Linked DNA regions of Homo sapiens. The main gene of each other region encodes a partner of the protein of the gene in region 2 in a complex. Each region holds a gene or a part of one and is shown on either strand. Other genes may lie near its edges.

Evidence for each region.
Region 1: TMEM67 (region 2) and AHI1 share a complex: the UniProt entries of both Homo sapiens proteins name them as parts of the tectonic-like complex.

What each region holds. Positions count from the first base shown.
Region 1 is NC_000006.12:135,493,353-135,502,630, forward strand, and holds the start of AHI1 (jouberin), read right to left. Parts: upstream 4,389-9,278; 5' UTR 4,231-4,388; intron 3,898-4,230; 5' UTR 3,836-3,897; intron 2,547-3,835; 5' UTR 2,462-2,546; intron 2,358-2,461; exon of another isoform or gene 2,187-2,357; intron 1-2,186. UniProt on the Homo sapiens protein: Involved in vesicle trafficking and required for ciliogenesis, formation of primary non-motile cilium, and recruitment of RAB8A to the basal body of primary cilium.
Region 2 is NC_000008.11:93,778,104-93,787,222, forward strand, and holds part of TMEM67 (meckelin isoform 1 precursor), read left to right. Parts: intron 1-2,489; coding exon 2,490-2,644; intron 2,645-2,770; coding exon 2,771-2,879; intron 2,880-3,554; coding exon 3,555-3,641; intron 3,642-4,291; coding exon 4,292-4,357; intron 4,358-7,118; coding exon 7,119-7,275; intron 7,276-8,119; coding exon 8,120-8,243; intron 8,244-9,119. UniProt on the Homo sapiens protein: Required for ciliary structure and function. Part of the tectonic-like complex which is required for tissue-specific ciliogenesis and may regulate ciliary membrane composition.

The DNA.
Region 1 (9,278 bases), on a different chromosome or scaffold from region 2:
CTTGCAGAAATGTCTAAGAAATTCTAAAAAGAAAGGAATGATTATGTAAACATACCTAACTATGTCAGTTAACTTAGGCAACAACTACGTGGCACCCAGTCAAAACAGACATCACTAAATCCATGGAGTAAAAATTCCTATACTTTAGTGATAGGAGCCTGTATTTACTCCTTCTAGCAGTTATAAATTTAATAAATCTAGTCTTCTACTTTCTAGTCTATATTAAATTAGAAAAGAGAAGCTGCAAAGGCAAGTGCAATGACAGCATGAGTAATTGAAACCTGAGAGCACGGAAGTAGAAAAATCATAAAACAAATAAAAATTTAATATTTATACTACTCGATGGTCATCTAATAGGCCAGGAAAAAGCTGACCTATATTATGACTATGATTCATCAAAAAAAAGCCTGCTGGGCGCCGTGGCTCATGTCTGTAATCCCAATACTTGGGAAGGATAAGGCGGGTGGATCACTTGAGGTCAGGAGTTTGTGTCCTGTCTGGCCAACATGGTAAAACCCCATCTCTACCAAAAATACAAAACTTAGTCAGGCGTGGTGGTGGGTGCCTGTAATCCCAGCTACTGGGGAGGCTGAGGCAGGAAAATCGCTTGAACCTGAAATGTGGAGGTTGCAGGGAGCCAAGACTGCACCAGTGCGCTCCAGGTGATGGAGTGAGGTAATATTTTAGAAAGATTAAATAACTAATGAAGAGGCAGGAGAAAGAATCGGAGATAATTCCCATGTTTCTAGAACTAGAATAAGTAGATTAGTAGTATCATTACACTGTAATATAATGCAGTACAGGGCAGTAGTTTAAAATCCATGTCCTAGAATTAGTTTCCATAGTCACTTGCGTGACTTTTGTTTCCTCATCTATAAAAACACCCTACCAGTGCCGACTCAAAGGGTTGTTGTAAGGGTTAAATGATTTAGAACAGTACCGTAGACAGAAGAAGCAACAATAAATGTTAGCTATAACTGTAACAGGTTGTTAGGGTGCAGTCACTGAGCTTAGTATGGGTCATGTTGAGTTGGGTATCTGAAGGGCACTGAGCAGCTACAAGCATCAGCTCCATTTTCAGATCCTTGGATCCAAATACCAGTTCTATCTGCCAGCAGATTCACCTCTATGGATATCAACTTCCTAATCTTTCACAATAATAAGAGTAAATCACTCACAGTGTTTTTATAAAGATTAAATGAGAATATGCAAATAAAATACTAGGCACAATGCCTAGCACATGGCAAGCCCTTCAAAAACAACAACTGTTATTACTGTCACGTGTGTGTGTGTTTACGTATATAATCATATTATGTTTGTTAGGCAATCTACTAATCCAGCAGGGAGACAATAGGCTGAAGATTTGGGAGTTATTTATAAATATGATAGTTCCAAGAAAATAAAAAGCCAATGAGAATCCTGTGAGCCTACAATATAAAGTAAAATCAGGGAGATAGGTGAAAAACTGGGAGATAGAAGCATTACAGAAGCAAACCCAAGTTTTAAAGGAGATGTTGCCTATATACTGTGTGGCATCAAAAGGGGCTGGAGGTTTTGAAGAAAGTCCACTGAATCTGCAAGTAGGAAGTCACGTGTGTCAAAGCTGTTTATAGAGGGGCAGAAACTTAGCAGGCTGGGGCTAAGGAATGAATGGAAGGTGACACCTGTAGAAGGGACATGTAGACAATTCTTTACAGAATTCTTCCAACTGTCTTCCCATCACCCCCAAAGGCAGTGACATGAGACAGTAACTCTGAGGGACAAAAACACTGTGGAAGGATTATGCTTTTTGTTTTAAGATTGTTTCCACGCCGCTATCACCTTTCCCTTAAAAAAAAAATCATCATCTACACAGCAACTAGTGTAATTTTCTAAAATTCAAATGTGATGGTGTCGTTTCTTCGCTTAAAATTCTTCACTAGCTCCCAATCGCACATTGAAAAAAATATCAAGTCCTTACCAGTGAGGTCCAAGGCCATTTATGAAATGTCCCCTTCACACATCCACTGTGTTCCAGACATGTGAAACTACCTGCAGGCCTTCACGTGTGCCAAGTTCTCTCTTGCTTTTGTATCATTACACACATATCCCCTCCCCTGAAAAATGTGCTTCCTCCTTTGTCTCTCTAACAAACTCCTCACTATCCTTTAAAGGCAAATGATATCTTCTCTAGAGAGCATTCTCACCTTGAAGGGCATTTAAGAACTTCTCTTCTGTGCTTCCAGGGTGCCTTAATCTTTGTAGCTCCCTCTACCTCAACCTTGAATTTTCACCCTGGTAAAATGTTCTGTAACTCCCACCAAACTGCTAGCTTTGGAGGACCAAGCCAATGCTCTCTTATAGTTATGTATCTGCCACTATGAAAGAAAAGAGAGGAGAAGAAGAGAGAAGCGAAGTGAAGAGAAGCAAAAGCAAAGCGAGTAAAAAAGACTCAGGCTTGAGCTCTAGTGTCACCACTTACTGATGTGTGGCCTTGGGCAAGCTACTTAATTTCTAATCCTTGGTTTTTCCTTGTCTGGGAATTTAAAATGGCACCTATTTTAGTACTGTAAGGAGAAGAGAAAATACCAAAAAGCAAAGTAATCAGTACATTGCAATAAAATTACTTTATGTCCATTATTATTGTATTAAAAATAAGTAAATAATTACAAATAAAATATATAAATCATATACTTATTTACTATTAACAGCTTAATACACAACTAAACTAATAAATACTAATATTATGTAATGATAACACAGCAAATACAGTACAGAAATCATCTCTAATTTTTTTTTTTTGGAGACAGAGTCTCGCTCTGTTGCCCAGGTTGGAGTGCAGTGGCACAATCTCAGCTCACTGCTGCCTCCGCCTCCTGGGTTCAAGCAATTCACCTGCCTCAGCCTCCCTGGTAGCTGGGACTACAGGTGTGGGCCATCACACCCAGCTAATTTTTGTATTTTTAGTAGAGATGGGGTTTCACCAACATTGGCCAGGCTGATACTGAACTCCTGACCTCAAGTGATCCACCCACTTTAGCCTCCCAAAGTGCTAGGATTACAGGCGTGACCCACTGCGCTCAGCCATCTCTAAATCTTAATATGTACTACAGCAAACATGATAGAATTAACGGCTAATATTTGATTAGTAACCTCTGCAAAAAATCAGATAGGACTTTAAAAGACACCTCTGATTCTTATATATTCCATTATTTTACAACTTCTCCCTCACAAACCCTTTCACAGGAGCGTCTAAGAGATATTACACAGGAAAATTAAATGGATTACATTTCATCTCATTTTATTTTACAGACAACCTGATTATCAGCCAATATGTGGCTCAATATCATTGGGAGAAAAAACTGAGAGGCTTGATAATTCGCTCCTTAACCAAATGTTATCGCAAGGGAAAAAAAGACAAACAAAAATCCTGTATACAAAATTCAATGAATAAATCAACAAGATTCTTCATAAGTAAACAAGATTCTAACTTCATAAATATTATTCCTCATAAACAAGATTCTAGGTATGGTTTAAAAACACTTTTGGTATTTGAATTTCTTTCAAGCATTCTTTAAAAAATTTCCCAGAGTACTCATAAGAAGCAATCTTCCTCCTAACGCCCAAGCAGTAACAGCAACTGTTAATGCAACAGGTGAAAAAATCGTTGGCATCTCTTTCTCAAAAGAAAGGGGAAAGCTTTATTTTCACAATAGATGTTTTTACAGGAATGCTAAACGCAGCACAACCTTTGATAAGGATTCTTAAATGGTCTACATTTTTGTTCTATTTTTATGCATCTCGAAACAACCCTATTAATATAATTTGGCTCTTATAAATATAACAAATTGATCACCTTTTCTCAGACATAATTAAGAAGGCTTTGACAGGTTGAAGATTCAGCCCCAGGTTGACACTCTAAAAGGAAATAAACACACTCAGTACACATCTGATTTAAAAGCATTTAAATAAGAATCGGGAGTAGGAAAGGCAAAGATTGAATTCTCTATCAGAGCACCATGCTCAACTCTCCGGGGACACGGAGACCAGTGAAAGAAGCGCAAAAGTACGGTGAGGACTCTCAGAAATCGCATTCCCCCGGGACACCCGGCCCACGCTCGTCGGTCACTACGCTATCAGCCTCCGCGCTCTCGGACTCCAGCAGCCCCGACACGCCGCCCAGGAGAGGGCCGGGCAGGCCGAGCACCCCGGCCCGCGCTCCCGCCACCAGCGCACCCATGATGTACTCACGGAGAGGGGTACGCAGAACCGCCCGTCCCGCCGGAGCCGACACCCGGAGCAGTGCAAATCAACTCCCCCAGCCTAGCGGCGCGTGCGCGAAGTGAGGCGGCCACGCAGCCACCTAACCCGCCAGCGACCCGTGTCCTGAAAGCAAGCCGCGGCTCTGTGCCGCAGTGCGGACAGCGCGCCGCCTGCTGACGTCAGCGCCTGCCTACGCCGCCGTTCCCATGGCGACCGATGCGTCCCGCGCTCTAGGCGAAGACCGCGGCCCCGTCCCCGCGCCTCCACCGCCTTCTTCCAGGAGGAGGGGCCGTGCGGCGCCTGCCCGGGGGCCCTCAGGCCGCAGGCGGGCGCGAGCTTCAGGGAACTTAGGGGGCTCCCGCCTCCCCGGCCACGCGAGCGGGAACAGTCTCCTCCACTCGGAGCGGTAAGGGACCCGGAAATGCGCGGGTGCCCCTACAGAGTCTTGAGTTTTCCCCGCCCTCACCTCCGAAAATGCTCTTTTCGCCTTAGAATTGTAGCTAGCGCAGGGAAAAACTGACTGGGCAAAGGAAAACTGGGGAGGCTGTCATGGAAGCCGCCCAGAATAAGAAAATGAATGAATGAGGCAAAGAAACAGATTTGTCACTCCCCACGCGATCGCGCCCACAAAAGAAAACATGGTTTTAAGGCGTGGAAAATGAAGTTGTACTACAGACAAAATTTTAAGAAAAAATTATCCACTGTTCCTTTAGAGCTATCTCCCTGTGTGTGAAAAACAAAACAAAAGTTAAAACGCCATCCTTTTCTACACCTAATGCTCCCTCCCACTTTTCTGATTTCTGCCACAGGCGCCATCTTCAGCTCTGAGTCACCAGGGCTGGAAAAATACTAGATGCGCTACTCGTGGACTCGTGAATACACTCGTGAATACAGGCCATTTCCTGTACCTACAGCCACCCGCTGTAAGCTGTTGCTTCATTTGTACAGTAAGAGTTTATGGAGGCCAGCTTTTCCATTCTTACTGACATTGCCACACCTTACAAACTATATGTCTTGTGCTTCCCTAAATCCTGTGAGGAAGCAACGAGAAAGATTACTAATCCAATGCGTACCGAACTGAGCTGTTCAACTTTCCGTTCTAAACATACTCTCCTAGATTTCTATCTTGCTGTAAGCCACCACAATCCTCCCAGTGTTTTAGTAAGAACAGTAGAGTATCCTAAATGCATCTTATGCCAAAGCATATCCATTCTCTCTTTTTAACTTCCTCAGATGGGCCCTTTACCAGTTCTCTGACTCCAGTTTGACTCTTAAATTCTCCACACTGCTATCAGAATGACCTGACTAAAAATGTAAATCGGATAATGGCACTCTCCTGCTGAAAATTTTTGAAAGGCAATCTGTAAGAGAAAATGATTACTTTGCCTAGGATACAAGATTCTCCATCTCCCTGACTAGTTTCATCTCTCGTTAGCTTCTTGTTCCAATTTTATGCAATATTGAATCATGTGTACCATGCAGTTTTATGCAACATTGAATTATGTGTACCATGAAAAACAATCCATAGCCTTTCACGCCCCGTCCTTACTCATATTGTCCTCTCTTCCTGAAAATTCCTCCTTTTACACTCCTGCATCACAGCCAAATGTTGTCCATCCTTTGAATCTTAAGCAGGTTGACTGACTCCTTCAAACACTCCTACTCCCTATTAGACTTCGGATACTCATTCTATATATTAGACTTTGGATGCTCATTCTATAGTTTCATAGTTTACTTTGTATTTTCTCTATCCCCAGCATCTACCACAGTGTCTATGAAATAGTTGGCATTTCATGAACATTTGTTGAATGAATAATGGATAACATATATTGAGCTCCTTCTAGGAGGTATGCATTGTAGGTGTTTTATGTACTTTTCATCTGTCCTCACAACTGCATTTAAGTACCTGCTTTTCCAAAGGGAAGTTATAACTCTGACTGCTCATTCTTAGTAGGGTGTTAGTTTCAGAATACAATCCCCAGACTAGCGGATGTGTAACCCTGTTATCATCTCTTGCTTCTCCATTTACAGTAGCATGCAGAGGTGCAGTGGGGTGGGGGAGGTCAGGGAATATTTCATAGCAGAAGTGACATTTAAGTAAAGACCAAAATAATGTGTAGAGTTGTCCAGGTTAGGAAGGGTTTCCAGGTAGAAGAAGGTGGCGTATAGTGTTCACTACAAGAAAGTTTGGTATAATACAAGAACTGGAAGAAAAAAAAAAAAAGTTCAAGTTGGCTAACTAAAAGGTAGAGAATGAGACTAGGGGCTTTTGGAGGAGACAAAACAAGAGAGTTAAACAAGCTATGAAGAGACCCAGACAGTATTGGTCAGTGGAATACCACTATAGAATTTTATGGAGTGAAATTTTCAAATTTTAATATCATAAAGATAACTCTGGCTGCAGGGTGGAGAACAGACAGGAAGGAAGCAAATCTAGATCTGGGAATACCATTTAAGATGCCGTTGCTGTAAGCCATGTAAGAGACAAAGGTGGCATGGTCAAGGCTAAGAAAAATCAGAATGGAGAGAAATGGACCAATTTGAGAAATTTTTAGGAGGTAAAAATGTCAGGACTTAGTGATTGATTGGATGGAAGAGTGAATGATAAGAAATAATAAAAAACGATGACCAGCTGTTTTGCCTTCCCCTTGGCAAGTAAAGAGGTGGCAAGCATGAAAGGGGAGTGAGGAAATAAATATGTTGGGTCTAATGGGAGCCAGGTTTCTCACTGACAGAGAAGGACGTTACAAATTGAGAGAGGAAGAATTCCACAGTGACCTTTGTGGTGATGTTGAATTGGAATTGAATATGTCAGTGTCAACTCATAGTTTTCAATATATACATAAACATATGTAAAAATAAATATAGAGGAAAGTATGTCTGTATGTGTGTGCGTATCTATCTATTATGCTCTTCCTAGCTCTATCTGCTGAAAGGGTTTCAGAGTAATGGTATACTAGAAGCAATGAGCACATGTGCCTAGATCTTGGTTTCTGAACAGTATTATTCACTAAAAGTAACTGGGTCCCTTGGAGAAATGGTTGATTTTAGAACAGGAGCCTGGAAAATTCTTGTTGCACCAGAAGTTAAGGAAGTTAATACAGAATGAAGAAACATATCAAAAGGTCACAGAAGCCAGCTTGAAGGAGCCACCACTGGCCACATCTGGGTCAATCTGAGCACCAATATAATGTTAATGGATTATAGTCCGCTAAATAAAATAGGAATATTTGAGCCCATACTAAAATGAATAAATGATTTTTTTGAAAAATCAGGATAAAGAAAAGCTCTGCCTTACATAAAAATGCCAACTAAATGTAATGAATGTAGACAGTGTTATATGTAGAAACATCATTATTTGGCAGTCATGATAGTAACAGTTGATTCAGACTAGAATCATCAGTGTATGCTAAAACTAGAGGGTGAGAGTATTAAGAGACATATAATATTTATATAGTCTCAAAGTATCTCTCCAGCAAATACTTATTAATTACACAGAGAAAAATTAGAAAACTTGACAGTGTAGAAATCTGGCACTGGTGAGCGAAGTTACCATCAGCAGTCATGAGACAAATCAGCATCGTGTATGTCCTGGTTAGAGGCACTTAGAATACACTTCTGTGACATTCCTGCCAAAAATGTGTAATCCGAATCAATCGTGAGGAAAAAATCAGACAACCCAAATGTCCCAAATTGAGGGACATTCTACAAAATAATAGACCTGTACTCTTCAAAGATCAAGGTCATGAAAGACAAAGGAACAACTAAAGAACGTTTTTAGATTGAAGGAGAATTAAGATACATGACAATTAAGTGGAATACATGATTCTGAATTGAATCCTTTTGCTATAAGGATATTATTGGGACAACTAACAATTTGAATGGGGTCTCTGGATTAGATGGTAGTATTTTAACAATATTAATTTCCTGATTTTGATGACTATAGTGACATAGATATTTTTGGTTTTAGAAAATACATATTGAAGTATTAAAGGTGATGAGGCTTCATATCTGCAACCTATTCAAATGGTTCAGGAAAAAAGTATACATAAATACTGTAAATAAATATAAACATAAATAATATACATAAAGAAAATGATAAAGCAAATGTTAACAGGGAATTTGGGCGAAAGCAGAAGTTCTTTATACTATTCTTGCAATTTTTCTGTAAGTTTATAATTATTTTAAAACTATAAAAGAAGTTTGAAAGGTGCCGAGGTTTCTGGCTCAGGTAACTGGGTGGAGAATGGCTAATCAGTTAACGACAAAAAATCAGGAAGAGCAAGCATGGAGGAAAAGATGTTTAGTTGCAATGGGATGTATGGAGTGGGATGTTCAGCAGGCAGTTGAGTATATACTAAACATATTAATGAGCCCCATTCAAACTGAATAAAGCAGATATGTTGCTTTAGCTCTCATTAGTCGAGAGTGCAAGACCAAGGGCACTCCGCTATCCTAGGAGAGGCAAACAATTAAGAGTGGTAGTATGGTAATAATTCTAAAAATTGGCTGAGTATCCATGAAAAAAATTGTGTGTATATATATATATATACACACACATATATGTATAAACATATATACACACATATATGTATAAATATATATCCACATATATGTATATATATACACACATATATGTATATATACACACATATATGTATAAATATATATACACATATATGTGTATGTGTGTGTGTGTGTGTATATATATATGTATGTATATAAATTGAACCGTTTAGGAATAAAATAGATTTAGGGTATTCGACACATTTAATACATAATGAATAGTGAATTTCTTGAATAATATAATGCCTAAATGTGACTGATATGCAAAATATTTAAATCCCTTACAGGATGTGCATTTACCAATCAGAACAGATGTTGGCTTTACTGCTTGTATTAGTTTTCTGTATTAGTTTGCTTGTATTAGTTTGCTGGGGCAGCCATAACAAAGTACCACAGAAATTTATATTCTCACAATTCTGGGGGCTAGAAGACTGAGATAAAGATGTCTGCAGGGTTGGTTTCTTCTAAGG
Region 2 (9,119 bases):
GTAATGCCCTTCTTTGTCTCTTTTGATCTTTGTTGGTTTAAAGTCTATTTTATCAGAGACTAGGATTGCAATGCCTGCTTTCTTTTGCTTTCCATTTGCTTGGTATATCTTCCTCCATCCCTTTATTTTGAGCCTATGTGTGTCTTTGCACGTGAGATGGGTCTCCTGAATACAGCACATTGATGGGTCTTTACTCTTTATCCAATTTGCCAGTCTGTGTCTTTTAATTGGAGCATTTAGCCCATTTACGTTTAAGGTGTAATATTGGTATGTGTGAATTTGATCCTGTCATTATGATGTTAGCTGGTCATTTTGCCCATTAGTTGATGCAGTTTCTTCCTAGCATTGATGATCTTTACAATTTGGCATGTTTTTGCAGTGGCTGGTACTGGTTGTTCCTTCCCATGTTTAGTGCTTCCTTCAGGAGCTTATGTAAGGCAGGCCTGGTGGTGTCAAAATCTCTCAACCTTTGCTTGTCTGTAAAGGATTTTATTTCTCCTTCACTTATGAAGCTTAGTTTGGCTGGATATGAAATTCTGGCTTGAAAATTCTTTTCTTTAAGAATGTTGAATATTGGCCCCCACTCTCTTCTGGCTGTAGAGTTCCTGCCAAGAAATCTGCTGTTAGTCTGATGGGCTTCCCTTTGTGGGTAACCCAACCTTTCTCTCTGGCTGCCCTGAATATTTTTTCCTTCAGTTTAACCTTGGTGAATCTGACAATTATGTGTCTTGGGGTTCCTCTTCTCAAGGAGTATCTTTGTTTTGTTCTCTGTATTTCCTGAATTTGAATGTTGGCCTGCCTTGCTAGGTTGGGGAAGTTCTCCTGGATAATATCCTGAAGAGTGTCTTCCAACTTGGTTCCATTTTCCCCATCACTTTCAGGTACACCAATCAAACATAGATTTGGTCTTTTCACATAGTCCCATATTTCTTGGAGGCTTTGCTCATTTCTTTTTAGTCTTTTTTCTCTAACCTTGTCGTCTCGCTTTATTTCATTAATTTGATCTTCAATTACTGATACCCTTTCTTCCACTTGACCAAATCGGCTACTGAAGCTTGTGCATGCATCACATAGTTCTTGTGCCATGTCTTTTAGCTCCATCAGGTCATTTAAGGTCTTCTCTACACTGTTTATTCTAGTTAGCCATTTGTCTAATCTTTTTTCAAGGTTTTTAGCTTCCTTCCGACGGGTTCGAACATCCTCCTTTAGCTCAGAGAAGTTTGTTATTACCGACCTTCTGAAGCGTACTTCTGTCAGTTTGTCAAAGTCATTCTCCATCCAGCTTTGTTCTGTTGCTGGTGAGGAGCTGCATTCCTTTGGAAGAGAGGAGGCACTCTGGTTTTTAGAATTTTCAGCTTTTCTGCTCTGGTTTCTCCCCATCTTTATGGTTTTACCTACCTTTGGTCTTTGATGTTGGTGACCTACAGATGGGGTTTTGATGTGGATGGGGTTTTGATGTGGATGTCCTTTTTGTTGATGTTGATGCTATTCCTTTCTATTTGTTAGTTTTCCTTCTAACAGGTCCCTCAGCTGCAGGTCTGTTGGAGTTTGCTAGAGGTCCACTCCAGACGCTGTTTTCCTGGATATTACCAGCGGAGGTTGTAGAACAGCAAATATTGCTGCCTGATCCTTCCTCTGGAAGCTTCGTCCCAGAGGGGCGCCCACCTGTATGAGGTGTCTGTCGGCCCCTACTGGGAGGTGTCTCCCAGTTAGGCTACACAGGGTCAGGGATCCACTTGAGGAGGCAGTCTATCCATTCTCTGAGCTCAAACGCTGTGCTGGGAGAACCACTGCTCTCTTCAGAGCTGTCAGACAGGGATGTTTAACTCTGCAGAAGTTTCTGGTGCCTTTTGTTCAGCTATGCCCTGCTGCCAGAGGTGGAGTCAACAGAGGCAGCAGGCCTTGCTGAACTGCGGTGGGCTCCACCCAGTTGGAGCTTCCCCGGCTGCTTTGTTTTCCTACTCAAGCCTCAGCAATGGCAGACACCCCTCCCCCTGCCAGCCTGCTGCCTGGCAGGTTGATCTCAGCTGTGCTAGCAGTGAGCAAGGCTCTGTAGGCGTGGGACCCACCGAGCCAGGCGTGGGATGTAATCTGGTGTGCCGTTTGCTAAGACCATTGGAAAAGCGCAGTGTTTAGGTGGAGGTGTCCCATTTTTCCAGGTACAGTCTGTCACGGCTTCCCTTGGCTAGGAAAGGGAAATCCCCCAACCCCTTGCGCTTCCTGGGTGAGGTGATGCCCCACCCTGCTTCAGCTTGCCCTCCATGGGCTGCACCCACTGTCCAACCAGTCCCAATGAGATGAACCAGGTATCTCAGTTGGAAATGCAGAAATCACCTGCCTTCTGCGTTGATTATGCTGGGAGCTGCAGACCGGAGCTGTTCCTACTCGGCCATCTTGGAACAGACCTGCACAAAGTAAAATTTTTATATCAACTTTTGCATAGACTGTTCAGGTTCATGTTACTTTTCTTTGCCATTGTTCTGTTGTAGGTATATGCCAATCTAACATCTTGTCAAGCTCTTGGAAATATGTGTGTGATGAACATGAATTCTTACGACTTTGCCACATTTGATGCATGTGGACTATTTCAGTTTATCTTTGAAAATACTGCTGGACTGAGCACTGTTCATTCTATTTCATTTTGGTAAGGATATTTTGATTGATGAAATGTTATTTTGACTGAATTCAGTGCAGTTATTAATATATTCACAAATACTAATAATAAGAAATATTTATTCTCCATTATTAAAACAGTTGTAACTGTTTATAGGAGACAGAATCTTCCTTGGCTGTTTTATGGAGACCAGTTAGGATTAGCACCTCAAGTGCTCAGTTCTACCTCTCTTCCTACAAATTTCAGTTTTAAAGGAGAAAACCAGGTAAAAGTGTCTAATATCATTAGAGGATAACTACATTTTGATTTATAATTTTAAAAGGTAATAAAGTTACAATTCTTGCCTTTTTAGGTTGTTGGTACAAACTCAGTTACTAAACTAAATATAAATGTCAACAACTCATAAGAACTAAATAGTATAGAGTTTAGCTATCTTACTGAATATGTGGATACTTCTGGATTGTGTGGTTATGGCAAGAAGTTGTACTTGTAGGGTTGGGAAGAGCAGTTTTCATCACCAAATGCAAAAAATCTCTGTCCTGTTTTTTCCACACCTTAAAGAAGTGCTTCCAAAGATTGATTGGGGCTCTGTGACATTGCTCAGCACTTCACAGGGCCAAATTCCTACCTGTAACTTTTTGACCTTCCAGAATGAGGAGATACTATTCTCCCACACTGCCTCCTATTTAACAGGTTCAAAAGGAGGCTATCTGTCACTAGTGCTGCCTCTCAATTCTAGAATAATAATTTTCATGCAAAAAACCAGTCTAATTCTTTCAGGTCTATTTAGTCATAGAAATAGATTAATTGAACCTCAAAATAAAGATAATTGAATGTAATTTTTCAACAAAAAAGATCAGTCAACAATGAAAATTTCTTTATAGGATATTGTATTACTTTCAGAGTATTTGACCTGATTTTGCTCGTTTTCTTTAATCAGAATACAAAACTGAAGTTTGTTGCTGCTTCCTATGATATAAGAGGAAATTTTCTCAAGTGGCAAACTTTAGAAGGAGGTGTTTTACAGGTAAGCATGATTCTAGTTAAAGAATTAATAACATGCATTATTTTTGCCTGAGACAAAGCCAAGAGGAAAAGATTATTGTATGAATAAAGCATCAGTTACATACTACAGTTGATTTTTTTTCTGATGCTTTAAATTAGACTTTCTTAAGTTTTTTGTTTGTTTGTTTGTTTGTTTGTTTTTTCTTTTTTTTTTGAGATGGAGTCTCGCTTTCTTAACCAGGCTGGAGTGCAGTGGCGCGATCTCAGCTCACTACAAGCTCCGCCTTGCGGGTTCACGCCATTCTCCTGCTTCAGCTGGGAGCTGGAACTACAGGCGACTGCCACCACGTCCAGCTAATTTTTATGTACTTTTAGTAGAGACGGGATTTCACCATGTTAGCCAGGATGGTCTTGATCTCCTGACCTCGTGATCCGCCCTTCTTGGCCTCCCAAAGCGCTGGGATTGCAGGCATGAGCCACCATGCCTGGCTAAGTTTTATTTCTTTAAAGTTATGACTTTCATTTATAACAGATGTTCCCTTAACTTTTCATATCCTTGATACATTAAATAAGTATTATGTAGAGCATATATCCATGTTCGGGTTTGAGAACTCTTGAGTATAAGAATAGAAAACATTTGTGAGATTTATCTGTTGTATTATTTTGCTGCAGCTTTGTCCAGACACAGAGACAAGGCTAAATGCTGCTTATTCATTTGGAACAACCTACCAACAAAATGTAAGTTTGAACGATATTAGTCTATATTTTAGCTTTATTTTTCAAAATATCATGTCAGCAGTAATTGGAATAATACTTAAATTTTTGAGATTGGAAATTTTTTATTCTTGGTTTTTTTTTTTTTTTTTTTGAGATGGAGTTTTGCTCTTGTTGCCCAGGCTGGAGTGCAGTGGTGCAATCTCAGTTCACCACAACCTCCGCCTCCCAGGTTCAAGTGATTCTCCTGCCTCAGCCTCCCGAGTAGCTGGAATTACAGACATGTGCCACCACGCCCAGCTAATTTTTTGTATTTTTAGTAAAGACAGGGTTTCTCCATGTTGATCAGGCTGATCTTGAACTCCCCACCTCAGATGATCTGCCCTCCTCAGCCTCCCGAAGTGCTGAGATTACAGGCATGAGCCACCGTGCCTGGCCGGAAATGTTTTTAATAGTGAAGAATAATTTCACTATTTAATATAATTTTTTATTACCTGGGTACATAAAAGCTTAATTTAAGTGGCATAAACAGAGCACCTTGTTATCTATAGAGTTTTTTGTTTTTTGAGACAGAGTCTCGCTCTGTTGCCCAGGCTGGAGTGCAGTGGTGCAATCTCAGCTCACTGCAATCTCTTGCCTCCTGGGTTCAAGCAATTCTCGTGCCTCAACCACCTGAGTAGCTGGGACAACAGGCATGTACCACCACACCCAGCTAATTCTTGTGTTTTGCATAGAGATGGGGTTTTGCTGTGTTGACCACGCTTGTCTCAAACTCCTGACCTCAACTGATCCACCAGCCTTGGCCTCCCAAAGTGCTGGGATTACAGGTGTGAGCCACCTCGTCCGGCCTAGAGTCTTAAACATCATATAATATTACATCTTCATAATAAATTGTTTATCTGCTTCTAGGCTTATAGGTCTTAAAAAGTAATGCTTACTTCTGAGCATTTTGAAATAAAGTAAAAATACTACTTTTTTTAAATGACTAATAAAAAGTTACTCCCTTCTTCTACCCGCTCATAACAAATAAAAATAATTCCTTCATCTTCTTCCATTCTTTTCTTTCTCCTTCCTTCTCTGACTTTCCTTACTTTGATACCTATTTTGAAATTACATTATTTTACTAAGGAATATTATGAGCCATTCAATACTTGAAAAACATGCATGTATTAGTCCGTTCTCACGCTGCTAATAAAAACACATCCGAGACTGGGTAATTTACAAAGGAAATAGGTTTAATTGACTCACAGTTCACTATGGCTGAGGAGGCCTCAGGAAACTTACAATCATGGTGGAAGGGAAGCAAACATGTCCTTTTTCACGTGGTGACAGGAAGAGAAGTACTGAGCAAAAGGGGGAGAAGCCCCTCATAAAACCATCAATCTCATGAGAACTCACTCACTATCATGAGAACAGCATGAGGGTAACTGCCCCTATGATTCAATTACCTCCCTCCGGGTCCTTCCCATGACACATGGGGATTATGGGAACTACAGTTCAAGATGAGATTTGGGTGGGGACACAGCCAAACCATATCAATTCATTAGTCTGTAAAAGTACATCTTGATAAAGTTCCACGCACAACCATAGAACAAAACCATAACAAAAAATACCATTATGGAAAGTAGATTGGAAGAATCTACTAACAGTGGTTACCTCTGGATAGTGGGGTTAGAAATTATTTTTTTCTTTTTTATAATTTCCAAATTTTCTACCATGAACATGAATTTACTTCTTTTGTCAGAAATGATTTACACGTTGTTGTTGCTGTTGTTGTTAAAATAAATGTTATTGTGCTTCTAACATAGGCCAGAAAGATCAACACTTATGTAATGCCTATCTGTGTGCTCAGCATTTTATCGTTATTATCCCATTTGATTCATAAAATAACTATATGAGATACATAGTATCTGTGCTTCACAGATGAGGAAATTATGCCGTGTAATTAGGTAATTTACTCAAAGACTTGTGTCACATAAACTGTGGAGCCAATGTTCTATCATCAGGTTTAAAAAGCATTTTTATTTCTTTGAACCTGGCTAACTCTCAAGTCCTTCATAGACTAGTGGGCAAAACAGTTATATAGACAAAGAATTGCAAAGAATGTGATAAGTGTCATTCTATAGGTATGTACAAGGTACTGATTCCTGGGGAAGTATAGAAAGGCTTCACAAAGTAAGTGATACTTGGATTTGTATAATGAATATGAGTTTTCCAGAAGAACACAGTGGGGAAGGAAATATCAGACAGAAATCACATTTGTAATGACAGAGAGACATACAGTAGTATGGCATATTTAGAAACTACAAGTAGATTAGTATGAATGGACCACCATAGACTGATAGGGAGTAATGAGAGATAAGCCTGGCTTGGTTAATGGAAGCCAGATCATATACATCATTGTACAGCAGGAGAAAAAATTGGGAATTTATCCCGTAGGACAGTAGTTTTAAACCTTTTCACTGATGTACCCTTAATATTGAGAATGAAGGTATACCTCCTTCATCTGAGTTGAAGCTCAAGAAGTTCTCAAAATTCTCAAAGCAGTACTTTACTGTTAGTGGTTTTGGTCCTTATAAAATAATCATAGTATTCATGTTTTGGAAGACAAATGAAAATGCATATAAACAAGGTAGTATAAAGACATTTTGCAAAACTAGAAAAACACTCTGAAGATAATAAATATGCTTGCTAATTTTCAATTGTGATCTTTTATTTTATTTTTTACTTTTTAGTACTTTAAGTTGCTGTTTTATGTGCTTTTATTTTTAATTTTACTTTTCAGTGTGAGATTCCTATCTCTAAGATCTTAATTGACTTTCCCACTCCTATATTTTATGATGTGTACCTTGAATATACTGATGAAAATCAACATCAATATATTTTGGCTGTGCCTGTGTTAAACCTAAATCTTCAACATAATAAGATATTTGTGAACCAAGGTAAGACATCCATACATACCACTCTTTTCCCTGAGCAGAAATCAACAAATAAGTTAACCTACATGATAATTTAATAAACCACTGATTATAAGAAAGGTCATGAATTCTCTCTTATGTGGTTCTATACAGTGTGCCAAAAAATGAAACAATAAATTGCTGGTGGACTTAGAAACTGTTGCTAATTTTATTGCCAGACATATTGTTAAGAAATTATACTGTTGCTGAGGGTATATCCTGAGAAACATTAGTAGAACCGTAAATTGGGGCTTTTTCGTCAAGCTGTCCCGAATATGCTTTTTTGGACAAATTAGTTTCTTTTGTTGTTATTCATGTTATAAAATTCTGCTTTTTCAGGTAATTTGCAGGGGAAAGCCTTCCAAATTTATGAAAAGTTCAATCAGAAGACATTCAAGTCCAAGGCACGGTGGCTCACGCCTATAATCGCAGCACTTTGGGAGGCCAAGACGAGAGAATTGCTTGAGCCTAGAAATTGAAGACCAACCTAGGCAACATAATTAGAACTGGTTGCTACAAAAAAAAATTTAGCTTGGTGTGATGGTGCACCCTTGTAGTCCCAGCTACTCTGGAGGCTGAGGTGGGAGGATCACTTGAGCCCAGGAGGTTGAGAATGCATGCAGTGAGCCATGATCATGCTATTGCACTATAGCCTGGTCAACAGAGTGAGACCCTGTCTAAAAAAAACAAAAGAAGACATTCACATGAGTTAGAGAACGCCATTGTCAGGTGTTTCTTATACTAGTAGCTTTTTGCAGCCATCTTATCTAAAACAATAATTTCATGTTTTAAATTTGTGCAGTAAACTTTTTTCTTTTTATAATAAAAGACAGCAACTCTGGAAAGTGGCTTCTAACTCGGCGCATTTTCTTAGTGGATGCAGTAAGTGGACGAGAAAATGACTTAGGAACTCAGCCAAGAGTAATTCGAGTTGCTACTCAAATATCACTGAGGTAAACAAATGTCTAATGATATTATTTATGGGAAAATATCATAATGGAAGTGTTTGCCAGTCATTAGTAGATGAAAACAATAAGGACAACTGAATTGGAACAGTTGGTCGGGTTATTTTAGGTGTATGTGTAGATTGGCATAGACCAGTAAAAGTGAATAGCCAAGGGGGAAAACTATAACAGAAGAGTGTGAGGAGTTAGGTCAAAATGCACATTATAGGTCCCACTCTAGACCTGCTGAATTAGAATGGGTTGCGAATAGCTAAGTAAATACCAGTGAGCTGAAATTGGTGTTTCAGGAAGAGCTTGCCAGATGATTGTTAATGTTTAGGACTCCCCTGTCCTCATTTCTTTCAGTGGCTTTTGTTCTAGGTTTACCCAGATTAATTTTCAACACCTCCCTCTTCCTAGGATAATCTCATTATGATCCTACGTTAGGATAGTACCTCGCCACTTAAATTTCTCTTTCTTTTCCAGTGTGAGATCTCTAAAATCTTAGTGACTTTCCCACTATAATATTTTATGATGTGTACCTTGAATACACTGATGAAAATCAACACCATCATCTCACAGTAGTTTGGTACTTTGAAGTACTTCAATATACTTATTTTTCAGTTATTTCATTTTGATTCTCATAATCTTATAAACAGTGCAGAAACTTTGTTATTTATCATGCTGAAATCCAAATGTACTGTCTTTTCAGCATTTCTTCAGTCTGCTAATATGGTGTTCCTAGTAAAAATGAAAATGCACCTAGTCAGACTTGATGTGTTCTTGATGAAACCATGCTGGCCCCTAGTGATTGGCACTTTCCTTTTTGAATTCACAAACTGTGCAGTACTAATGCATCGAATTTGGCAAAATGAACCTCACTTT